Regions from separate parts of the Homo sapiens genome. Here region 1 is linked to region 2. Evidence: fine-mapped expression QTL. Tissue or cell type: whole blood. Region 2 holds a variant in brackets; the other region holds the start of a gene. All regions are shown on one strand. Distances are from middle to middle.

Region 1 (5,517 bases), 880 kb before region 2:
TAAATGTTAAATAAAATAGTACAAAATGAAATTTCTTAAAAGAAAACTAAACAAAAGAAAAATAAGTTTAGAAAAGCAAGACAGACTCAAGTGAAGTATACTTTACAAATTGCATGGCATACACTTATAATCAAACAGGTAAGCTTGACACAAATTTTTCTTTTTTTGTTTTTGTTTTTGGTTTTTTTTGAGACAGGGTCCCACTCTGTCACCCTGGCTGGAACGCAGTGGCGCGATCACAGCTCATTTGTAGCATTAACCTCCCGGGCAGCTCATTTATAGCATCAACCTCCCGGGCTCAAGCAATCCTCCTACCTCTTCCTCCTAAGTAGCTGGGAACAACATGAAAGTTTTGACAGTCAAAGACTTCACTTGCCTGAGGCATTATGGGTCAGAGAAGAGTTGGCATAAATTTCCACTTGAATGAGTAGATGTGCTGAACAGGATGAATTATGAGATGCTGAAACCAGAAGGGTCTGGAGGATACAGGGGGACTCTGAGAAGGAATCTGTCTCATTGGAGGAACACCAGTCCAGACCTCTCTTCCACCTCACTGTCACTTCCAACACCTTCTGAAAGGAAAACATTGCTGTATTTTTAAAGTGACTCAAAACAGGGTCTATAAGAATACATAATGGAAAACACAATAAAAGTACACATCAGCCTCCGTTCATTTTATAAAAGGGAAATGTATACAGAGATGACACAGTTATCTTCAGTTCCCCCCCATAAACCTATGGTAACATGCAAGCCCTGATTCTTCTTCCTTAACATAAAAGCAAACAACTTCGGGATACTTAGAGAAAGCTAAACACAGATCTGATAAATAAACTCAGTTTATTGTACACCTTTTTAGTTTCTTTATCATCCTATCAGTGGAAGAGTAAATACACAAAAAAAGTCAATGAAAACAATCCTCAGTTTATCCCAGAATGACTTTAGACATGTACATGTTCACTCCTGGGGTACAAGCAGAGCTTGTCTTTCCTGTCCTTTTCTCTCCAGAATTGATGTTGCATATACTAGGTATCCAATAAACACTTATTAAATAGAAGATGCTTAATCTCTCCAGGTTTGAGTATCCTTACACATAAGCTCAGAGTTGGGCAAGATCAGTGGTTATGAAGCTTTTTTTTTTGAGACGGAGTCTCGCTCATCACCCAAGCTGGAGTGCAGTGGCGTGATCTCGGCTCACTGCAATCTCTGCCTCCCGGGTTCAAGTGATTCTCCTGCCTCAGCCTCCAAAGTAGCTGAGATTACAGGCACCCGCCATCACGCCCAGCTAATTTTTGTATTTTTAGTAGAGATGGGTTTCACCATGTTGGCCAGACTGGTCTTGAACTCCTGACCTCAGATGATCCGCCCTCCTCGGCCTCCCAAAGTGCTAGGATTACAGGCGTGAGCCACCGCGCCTGACCAGCTTTTTCTTTTTTTTTAAGAGACAGGGTCTTGCTCTGTTGCCCAGGCTGGATGAAGTGCAGTGGTGCGATCATAGCTCTCTGCAGCCCTGAACTCCTGGGCTCAAATAATCCTCTTGCCTCAGCTACCCCACCCCCCTCCAAGTATCTGGGACTGTAGGTGTACGCCACCCACCTAATTTTTTTTTTAATTGTTTTGTAGAGACGAGGTCTCGCTATGTTACAGGCTGGTCTGGAACTCCTGGGCTCAAGCAATCCTCCCGCCTCAATCTCCCAAAGCGCTATGAGTACAGGCGTGAGCCACGATGCCTGGCATAAAGCTTTTTTGAATCACTGACCCATTTGATGATCTAAAGGAAACTGGTGACCCTCTCATCAGAAAAATGCACATACACACAGAACTTTACATACAATTTCATAGAGTTCACAGACCCACTGAAATACATCCAAGGACTCCTAACCCCAGGGTAAGGAACCCGTGGGCTGGATAAGTGTCTACCAGATCCAACAGCCCACAATTTCATGATTGTTGAGAGCATGGAGAAAGCCATGCCTTGTTAAATAAAGAGAGCACTGCAGAAACCCTAGCTGGGGGCCTCTTCACAGGCTACAGAGAAGGTTTACTTCTGGCCTTACCGCACCGGGGATCACAGTCACGCTCCAGTCTTCCGTCTCATTGTTCAGCACTCCACACGTCGGAATTGGCAATATTCCTAAAGAAAGAAGACCAGCATGCAAAGGCAGCAAGGTCCAGCAGCTCAGGGGGTGCATTGAGTCAGACTGCCTAGGATGGACTCACATTACAGCCTAAGATTGGGCCCTTTACAAGCTGCTTGACACTGGGACAGTGACAACCTCTCTGAACTTGTTTCTTCCTTGGTCAAAGGGGATGAAAAGATATTACTGTTCTTACTAGGAAAATGGGATGATGCACGATGTTAGCTCAATGAATGCTAACCATTATTATTTCAGGCTTTCTTCGAACCTGTCCGTCTGTCCTCTTTGGCCTACAGCAGCCGCCCGATCCTTTTCTCCCCATGCGACTTTGCAGAGAACAGAGGCAGGGGGCCCCAAGGATGCCACCTCTCCAGGCTCCTTGGGAGGTCTGGATCCAGTCCAACCCCCACCCTCCCCAAAAGAGGGCCGGACTTTACCCGCCTCGTCCTGCAGCACTGCCAGGGACACGGTCACACCCTCGGTGTCTCCGACCAGGGACGCGCTGACCGCAGGGCCGGACATTCGGATAAAAGGAGGGATGAAAGCTAGGCGGGAAGGAAAGGGGACAAGGAGGGGTTAGCAGTGGAAGAATCACCGCCTAAGGTGTGTGTGGCGGCTTGCTTTGGCGTTGTCGACTCCCGAAGCTCCCGGGGGAGTCCAAGTCTGGCCCTTTTAACGCCCAGTCCCCTCAGCCCCGGCCCACCGAGGTCACTGCCGCGCCGTACACACCCAGGTCCCCCCACAGAAGCCTCAGGATGCCCTGCAGAAGGAAAAGCCTCAAAAGAAGAGCGGCCGGAGGCTGGAAGCCCATGCCTTAGACCTCGCGGGCCGGGCACAGCAGAACCGCGCCCTCATTAGAACCCAGGAAGGACTCAGACACGAAAACGCAGCAGCCACTGCCCCGCCGCCGCCATCTTGCAAGCGAACGCCCGGAGCTATGGCAACCACCAATCGGCGGCCGGCCAGGAGGAACGCCGCGCTGTGATTGGACCAGTGGCAAGAGCGGGCACCCCGGCCCCGCCCACAAGGCCTAGCATTTTTGCTGCTTGACTCTGGTGGGGAGAGTGAGGGCTGAAAAACTACCTATCCGGTGCTCCACTTAGTACCTGGGTGACGAAACAATCTGTGCACCCAACCCCCGTGACACGCAATTTACCTATATAGCAACCTGTACATGGACCCCTGGGCCTAAAAGTTGAAAACATCAAAATTAAAAAGGTCCTGAAAAGCAGGAGTGCGTGTCCGGCTCAAAAACTGGAGTTTTCCCCTACCCTGGAATTAATCCAACAATAGCCAAGAGCGATCCTATAGACACTGGCTTCTAAATAAAAAGGGTGGGACTTGCTCCTTAATAAACTTGATTTTTATACGGATTTGTTTTAGGGGTGAGTAGAAAAAGGGGATGGGGCTGCCGCGCTGTGTTTATTATCTTTACTATCGTTTATGATGTATTATTTATATTTTATATTTTTATAAAATAAATATATATTTACAAAATAGATATACTTTGTTTTATATATATATATCAGATATACATACTTGATATATATAAAATACATATAGGCCGGGTCTGGCGGCTCATGCCTGTAATCCCAGCAATTTGGGAGGCCGAGGCGGGCGGATCACAATGTCAGGAGTCTGAGACCAGCCTGATCAACATGGTGAAACCCCGTCTCTACTAAAAATACAAAAAATTAGCCAGGCGTGGTGGCAGGCGCCTATTATCCCAGCTACTCAGGAGGCTGAGGCAGGAGAATTGTATGAATCTGGGAGGCGGAGGTTGCAGTGAGCCGCGATTGCACCACTGCACTCAAACCTGGGCGACAGAGCCAGACTCCGTCTCAAAAATATATTTATTTATTTATTTATCTTATAAAATATATATGTATTTATATTTTATCTTATATATATTTATCTTTTATATAAGTATATATTTTGTAAATTTTATACTTATATGTTATAATTTTATAAAATTTATATTTTTATAATTCTTATCATTATCATTTATTATCACTATTGCTTTTATTATCATTCTCCTAGGTTTTTGAAGGATTTTCTCCCCTGCACAGAGCTCTCAGCACTCTGAAAGCAGATCCAATCACAGAACACACAAGAGGTTTTGCCCAGCAATAGGACAGATGTGAAAGAATCAAAATTCTGTCTGGAAAAAAATTGTTTTTTCTTATATCAGTAGCCTCAGAACATTTCAAATATTGTCACGGCTTGGGGACTGAGAGTGCAGGGTCTGAGGTCAGGCTGCCTGGCATGGGATTTCGCCTTCCCTCCACAGATATTCTCAGCTGTTAAGTGACTTTGGGCAAGTCAACCTCTCTAAGTTTCAGCTTCCTCATCTATAAAAAAGGGATGATAATAATCCTTCCTTGGGGATTGTGTGAGGATGAAATGAGGTAACATATCTAATGAGGTTAAACCAATGGCTGGCATACAGTAAGCACTCAGTTAATGATCAGTTACTTGTTAACTATCAGAGAGGTGGTGTATCCTTTAGCTGAGACAATCATGGTGTTCAGCATTGTGGCTGACTGACGGTAAATGCCAAGTAAATGTTTGCCATTATTAGTCTTTTTTTTTTTTCTTTTTGAGACAGGGTCTCACTCTGTCACCCAGGCTGGAATGGTGCAGTGGCACAATCATAGCTCACTGCATCCTCAAACTTCTGGGCTCAGCTGATCCTCCCACCTCAGCCTCCCAAGTAACTGGCAATACACCACCACACCCGGCTAATTTTTGTATTTTTTATAGAGACGGGGTTTCACCATGTGGCCCAGGCTGGTCTCAAACTCCTGGGCTCAAGTGATCCTCCTGCCTTGGCCTCTAAAAGTGCTGGGATTACAGGTATGGGCCACCGTACCCAGCCCCATTATTACTCTTAATGTTCAGTTATATATTCATTGATCAGCAAATCTAACATTGTGAAAGGATTCTGAAAGTTGAGGCTTTATAAGGGCCTGACACTGGGTGTTATCTTTTTCTTATACTCCCTGAAAAACTGTGGGTCACTACAGTTGTAACATGAGCATGAAACTTTTCCCGTGTACCTCAGCTCCTCTCTGGAAGACTGCAAAATGTTTACCTCTCTTGATATCTTGGAATGAAGCCTAGGAGAACGTTACTAAGAGGAAGCTGTCAAACACTTAAATATTTCTGTTATTCCCCATCTGTCTTTGGGGGGAATTAATCTGCAAATTAAGTTGGCAAGGCCAAGCGGTAAAGATTAAGAGATAAATCCTCCCAAAAGAAAACATTTCTGGGCCGGGCTTGGTGGCTTATGCCTGTAATCCCTGCACTTTGGGTGGCAAAGGCACATGGATCACTTGAGGCCAGGAGTTCAAGACCAACCTGGGCAACACAGAGAAACCCA
Region 2 (5,803 bases):
AACTCAGGAGGCTGAGGTGGCAGGATCACTTGAACCCAGACAGTCGAGGCTGCAGTGAGCTATGATTGCACCACTGCACTCCAGGCTGGGCAACAGAGCAAGACCCTGTCTCTACTAAATAAATAAATTCTTTTGTAGGCTTTGTTCACTTTTATAATTGAAACATGCAAATCTATCAATTGTCTATATTTTGAAAAAGAAGAATAAAACATACAAAAATTGTTTTCAGACAATGGTGTGAGATTGTCTTTAGTTAAGAAGATGTTTAAGGAATCAATTTAGGATGACAGGCATGGTGGCTCATGCCTGTAATCCCAACGCTTTGGGGCTTTGGGAGGCAGAGGTAGGAGGATCTCTTGAGCCCAGCAGTTCCAGACCAGACTGGGCAACATAGTGGAACCTCATCCATACAAAAAATTTAAAAATTAGGCATGTGTGATGGCATGTGCCTGTGGTCCCACCTACCTGGGAGGCTGAGGTGGGAGGATCACTTGAGCCTCAGAGTTTGAGGCTGCAGTGAGCTGCGATTGTACCACTGCACTCCAGCCTGGGTAAAGAAATCTGCTTAGTATATGATAAAAATATTTCACAAAATCGATTTATTATAATATTAGCTAACAAATTCCATGTATTTTACTTAGTAATACATAGTAGAGTGCATGGGTAAAAAGTGATTAATCAAAAAGAAAAGAGACTAACGTATCCTTTAAGCTTTGTTCTTTCCTTTGACCTCCCATAGCATTTTATGCATAGCATTTGTATAGTAGTGAATTCTGTGGGCCTGTGAGCTTCTGAGCATATCGCAGGGCACCTGGCGTACAAATGCTGGTCCAAGGACTGTTTGAATGCAACTGTAAAGCTACAAATATGTGATATCTTTAGCAGCGTTAACGGGTTATCACTACTTGCAGATGCAGCAATCCTAGAAATGGTGAAAATAGTGACCTCTAGTGGCAGAATACCACACTTTCACCCCGATCTTTAATCACAAGAGATTAAAATTAAGAATTCCATTTCACTTAAAACTTCTTAGGTCGGGCATGGTGGCTCGCACCTGTAATCCCAGCATTTTGAGAGGCCGAGGCAAGGGGATCGCTTGATCCCAGGAGCTAGAGACCAGCCTGGGCAACATAGTGAGACCCCTTCTCTGCAAAAAAATTAAAAATTTAGCCAGGCTACTAGGAAGGCCAAGGCGGGAGGATTCCTTGAGTCCAGGAGTTTGAGGCTGTGATGAGCCTCAATTTTTTCCCATTAATTTACAGACAAACTGCATTCCATTCCCTGCCATATTCCTTACCTACCCCCAGTATCTCAGAGTTTCCACTGGTGAAGGCCTACTTCTCCACTCCCAACTGAGAATGACTGACATAGAGAGCTTGTTGACATCCCTGCCAGCCAAGATGATTCTACTGGGCTTTCTTTTCAGTGGTTTGTGTTAGGAAAGTCATTGATTTAGAGGTAAAGTTCCGAAGAGAAAATCATATGAACACTTTTTGGTCTACTGATACCTACCCTCAGTCCCCCTTTTACTAGGGGTACACATTCATTAAAAAACCCCTACTCTGAGCACCCATACAACCATTCTGTTTTTCGCTTTCAGTAAATTACATGATATATTCAACAATTTATTATAAAACAGCCTTTGTGTGAGATGATTTCGTCCAAATGCAGGCTAATGCGAGTGTTCTGTGCATGTTTAAGGCAGGCTAGGCTGAGCTATGCTGGTGGCTGGGTTGGCTTCATTAAATGCATTTTTGACTTGCGAGGGGTTTATCAGAATGTAACCCTGTAAGTCAAGGAGCATCTATGTTATGTTTTTAGTAAGAAGCAGAGTCACACGCTTAAGCTGGAAGGGAGAATAGCTCATTTTACAGAAGAGGAAATAGTGACTGGGAACGGGATGGCAGCATTAACACTCGCTGCTTGGTCCACCATCGGTCCCACAAAGGGTGTTAAAAACAAACAAAAAGGCCTGGCGTGATGGCTCATGCCTGTAATCCCAGCACTTTGCGAGGCTGAGGCGGGCGGATTATCTGAGGCCAGAGTTCGAGATCAGCCTGGCCAACATGGTGAAACCCCGTCTCTACTAAAAATATAAAAATTAGCCGGGCATGGTAGCATGCGCCTGTAATCCCAGCTACTTGGGAGGCTGAGGCAGGAGAACTGCTTGAACCTGGGAGGCAGAGGTTGCAGTGAGCCGAGATCATGCCACTGCATTCCAGCCTGGGCGACAGAGTGAGACTCTGTCTCAGAAAAAAATAAAAATAAAAAAGCCGGGCTCACGCCTGCAATCTCAGCACTTTGGAAGGCCAAGGCCCGTAGATCACTTGAGGTTAGGAGTTCAAGAAGACCAGCCTGACCAATGTGGTGAAACCCCGTCTCTACTAAATATACAAAATTTAGCCGGGCGTGGTGGCTCATACCAGTAACCCCAGCTACTAAGGAGGCTGAGGCAGGAGAATCGCTTGGGCCC[G/A]GGAGGCAGAAGTTGCAGTCAGACGAGATTGCACCACTGCACTCCAGCCTGGGTGACAGAGCAAGACCCTGTCTCAAAAAAGACCCTGTCTCAAAAAAAAAAAAAAAAAAACCATTTTGGGAGAGGTATAATTCCTTCAGCCTGTCATCATTGCAAGTCTAGGTTACAAATACATTCGATCATCTGTTTTACCAGTAAAAAGCAATTCATCGTGCAGGCAACTTTTCTCTTGCTTGAGGCGAATGATCTCTTCTCGTTGCTCATTATTTTCTGTCGTCTTTTCATTGAGGTCCTCTTCACAACAGAAGAAAAAGAAAGTCCTCAAATAAATACTAGGTTCCAGTCCTCATATACACACTATGCCTAACTCTCACATCCTCAGCGGCTCCTTCCGGTCCTGATGGATCTATAGACAAAATCTGTTTCACAGCCAACATCTCCACACCTGGCAAGGACCCCTGGTTGGAGGCTTCGCTTGCTCTCATCTGACTGACCTCCCTGCACCAGCCTTGCCTCTCCTGTGACAGCCCAGTGTACACAGAGCAATCTTTTAAAAATCAAAATCTGCCCAGCGCAGTGGCTCACGCCTATAATCCCAGCACTTTGGGAGGCCAAGGCGGACAAACCACTTGAGGCCAGGAGTTCGAGACCAGCCTGGCCAACATGGTGAAACCCCGTCTCTACTAAATATACAAAAATTAGCTGGGTGTGGTGGCACACACCTGCAATCCCAGCTACTCAGGAGCCTGAGGCAGGAAAATCGCTTGAATCCAGGTGGCAGAGGTTGCAGTGAGCTGAGATCACGCCACTGCACTCAACCTGGACAACAGAGTGAGACTCCATCTCAAAAAAAAGTAAAGTAAAATAAAAATAAAGGCCAAGTGCAGTGGCTCACACCTGTAATCCCAACACTTTGGGAGGCTGAGGCGGGTGGATCACCTGAGGTCAGGAGTTCGAAACCAGCCTGGCCAACCTGGTAAAACCCCGTCTCTACTAAAAATACAAAAATTAGCTGGGTGTGGTGGTGGGCGACTGTAATCCCAGCTACTCAGAAGGCTGAGGCAGGAGAATTGCTTGAGAGGCAGGCGGGGGTTGCAGTGAGCTGAGATCGCGCCATTGCACTCCAGCCTGGGCGACAAGAGTGAAATTCTGTCTCAAAAATAAATAAATAAATAAAACTAAAAATAAAAATCTGCTCGTGTCATTTCTCAGTGAGAAGCCTTGCTACTGCACTGAGGATGAAATCCAAATCCATTACCACAAACTGCAGAGCCCAGCATGACCTGACCTGCCCATCTCCCCACCGCCGTTCCCTCCTTTCCTTCTGTTCCTTGAGTATGTCTGTGGTATAAGAAGAAATAGATGTGGTTTTTGTCCTCTGTTCCTGGAGAACAGAGCTCCTAAAACTTGTGGAATTTCCTAAGTGACAGAAGCATCTTTTGTCATTCATGAAGAGTCAGTTGATTACACCAGACTACATGCTAACGAGGTGACTCAGGGTGGAGCTCCTACGTGGCCTCAGGATGCAGACAGCCACCAGAAACACCAAGTGAAGACAGGGCTGGAACCTGCAGTCCCACTTGTGGACCTCCAGGAAGGGGAGGGAGGGCTGGAGATTGAGCTCTATAAAAATTCCTCTTCTTTTTTTTTATTTTTTTGAGGCAGGATCTTGCTCTGTTGCCCAGGCTGAAGTGTAGTGGCCAATCTTGGCTCACTGCAACCTCCACCTCCTGGGATCAAGAAATCCTTTCACTTTGCCTCTCGAGTAGCTGGGACTACAGGATCACACCACCATGCCTGGCTAATTTTTTGTAGAGACAGGGTTCTGCCATGTTATCCAGGCTGGTCTTCTTGAAGTCCTGGCCTCAAGCAATCTGCCTGCTTTGGCCTCCCAAAGTGCTAGGATTACAGATGTGAGCCATCATGCCCAGCCACTATTTTTCTTTTCTAAAAAAAAAGTTTTAAGCTGGGTGTGGTGGCTCATGCCTGTAATCCCAGCACTTTTGGGAGGCTGAGGCAGGTGGATCACAAGCTCAGGAGTTTGAGACCAGCCTGACCAACATGATGAAACCCTGTCTCTACTAAAAATACAAAAATTAGCCGGGCATGGTGGCACCCACCTGTAATCCCAGCTACTCAGGAGGCTGAGGCAGGAGAATTGCTTGAACCCAGGAGGTGGAGGTTGCAGTGAGCTGAGATCACGCCATTGCACTCCAGCCTGGGCAGCAGAGCAAGACACTATCTCAAAAAAAAAAAAGTTTTAATATTGAATTTATAAAATGTTTTTAGTATATAAATATTGACAGAACAGACTTCTTTCTACTTGAATATTTTACCTCGGTGTATATAAACATTCAATAAATACCAAATACCTAGAGTGTAGCCCTTGTGCCATGCTATTAACAGTACACTGAAAAAGAGAAGCAGAGTCTGTTCCTGCTGTCAAGGGGATGATAATACGATTATGGTTTTAGCTGAAGCTACAAATGGAGATAAGACCTATGGCTAACCATAGGTCAAGGCATCATAAGGACAACATTTTTGAATGCTGAATCTTTTAAGTTAAATCAGCAAAGATCGGCTGGGTGTGTTGGCTCACGCCTGTAGATCTCAGCACTTTGGGAGGCCAAGGCAGAGGGATTCACCTGAGGTCGGGAGTTCCAGACTAGTCTGGCCAACATGGCAAAACTCTGTCTCTACTAAACATCCAAAAATTAGCCAGGCATGGTGGTAGGTGCCTGTAATCCCAGCTACTCGGGAAGCTGAGACAGGAGAATAGCTTGAACCCAGGAGGTGGAGGCAGTGGTGAACCAAGATTGCACCACCGCACTCCAGCCTGGGTGACAGAGTGAGATTCTGTCGAAAATAAATAAATCGGCAAAAATAAAAATTCCTAATTTCAGAATCAGAAGTTTCTGCCCTCACCATGGGAAGAAATGCCCAGGCTAGCCTGATAGCAAGACGATGAAATGTGTGAGCCAAAACTGCCCAGATGGGAAGCTCAGTGAGGCCCAACCACAGTCAGCCAACTCCCCCATTTGCCTCTAGACATGTGGGTTTAATAAATGCTACGACTGTCTGCCACTGAGATACTGATGTTGTCTGCCACAAAGCATGTATTAGCGATAGCTAATGGTACAGCCACCTCAACTAAGGCAGGATTACTTTAAAATATGATACATTCTGCAGTTTTCCCCAACTCTGTTATATATCTTATAAGACACAAATTGCAGCATAATCCTATATAAATGAAATGGATATTTCACGTTAGGGTCTAAGGCCAGGAATTGATCTACTCTCAAGCATAAGATTAAGTGAACCCAGATGAAA

What was found. PIP is the estimated chance that this variant, and not a neighbour inherited with it, causes the effect.
Region 1: TCTN2 starts here. The variant in region 2 is fine-mapped to the expression of TCTN2 in whole blood (INTERVAL, PIP above 0.99).

The regions. Positions count from the first base shown.
Region 1 is chr12:123,668,670-123,674,186 of GRCh38, reverse strand. TCTN2 (tectonic family member 2) reads right to left here and starts at 3,074. Exons shown (of 18, transcript NM_024809.5): 1 at 2,865-3,074; 2 at 2,573-2,680; 3 at 2,055-2,131; 4 at 377-572. The coding sequence starts at 2,946.
Region 2 is chr12:122,788,984-122,794,786 of GRCh38, reverse strand. CCDC62 (coiled-coil domain containing 62) reads right to left here. Exons shown (of 13, transcript NM_201435.5): 6 at 2,666-2,767. Among named protein-coding and RNA genes, the nearest start is that of CCDC62, 17 kb to the right of the region's middle. RefSeq lists an enhancer at 4,331-4,884. The variant G/A (reference allele first, on the strand shown) is at 2,474.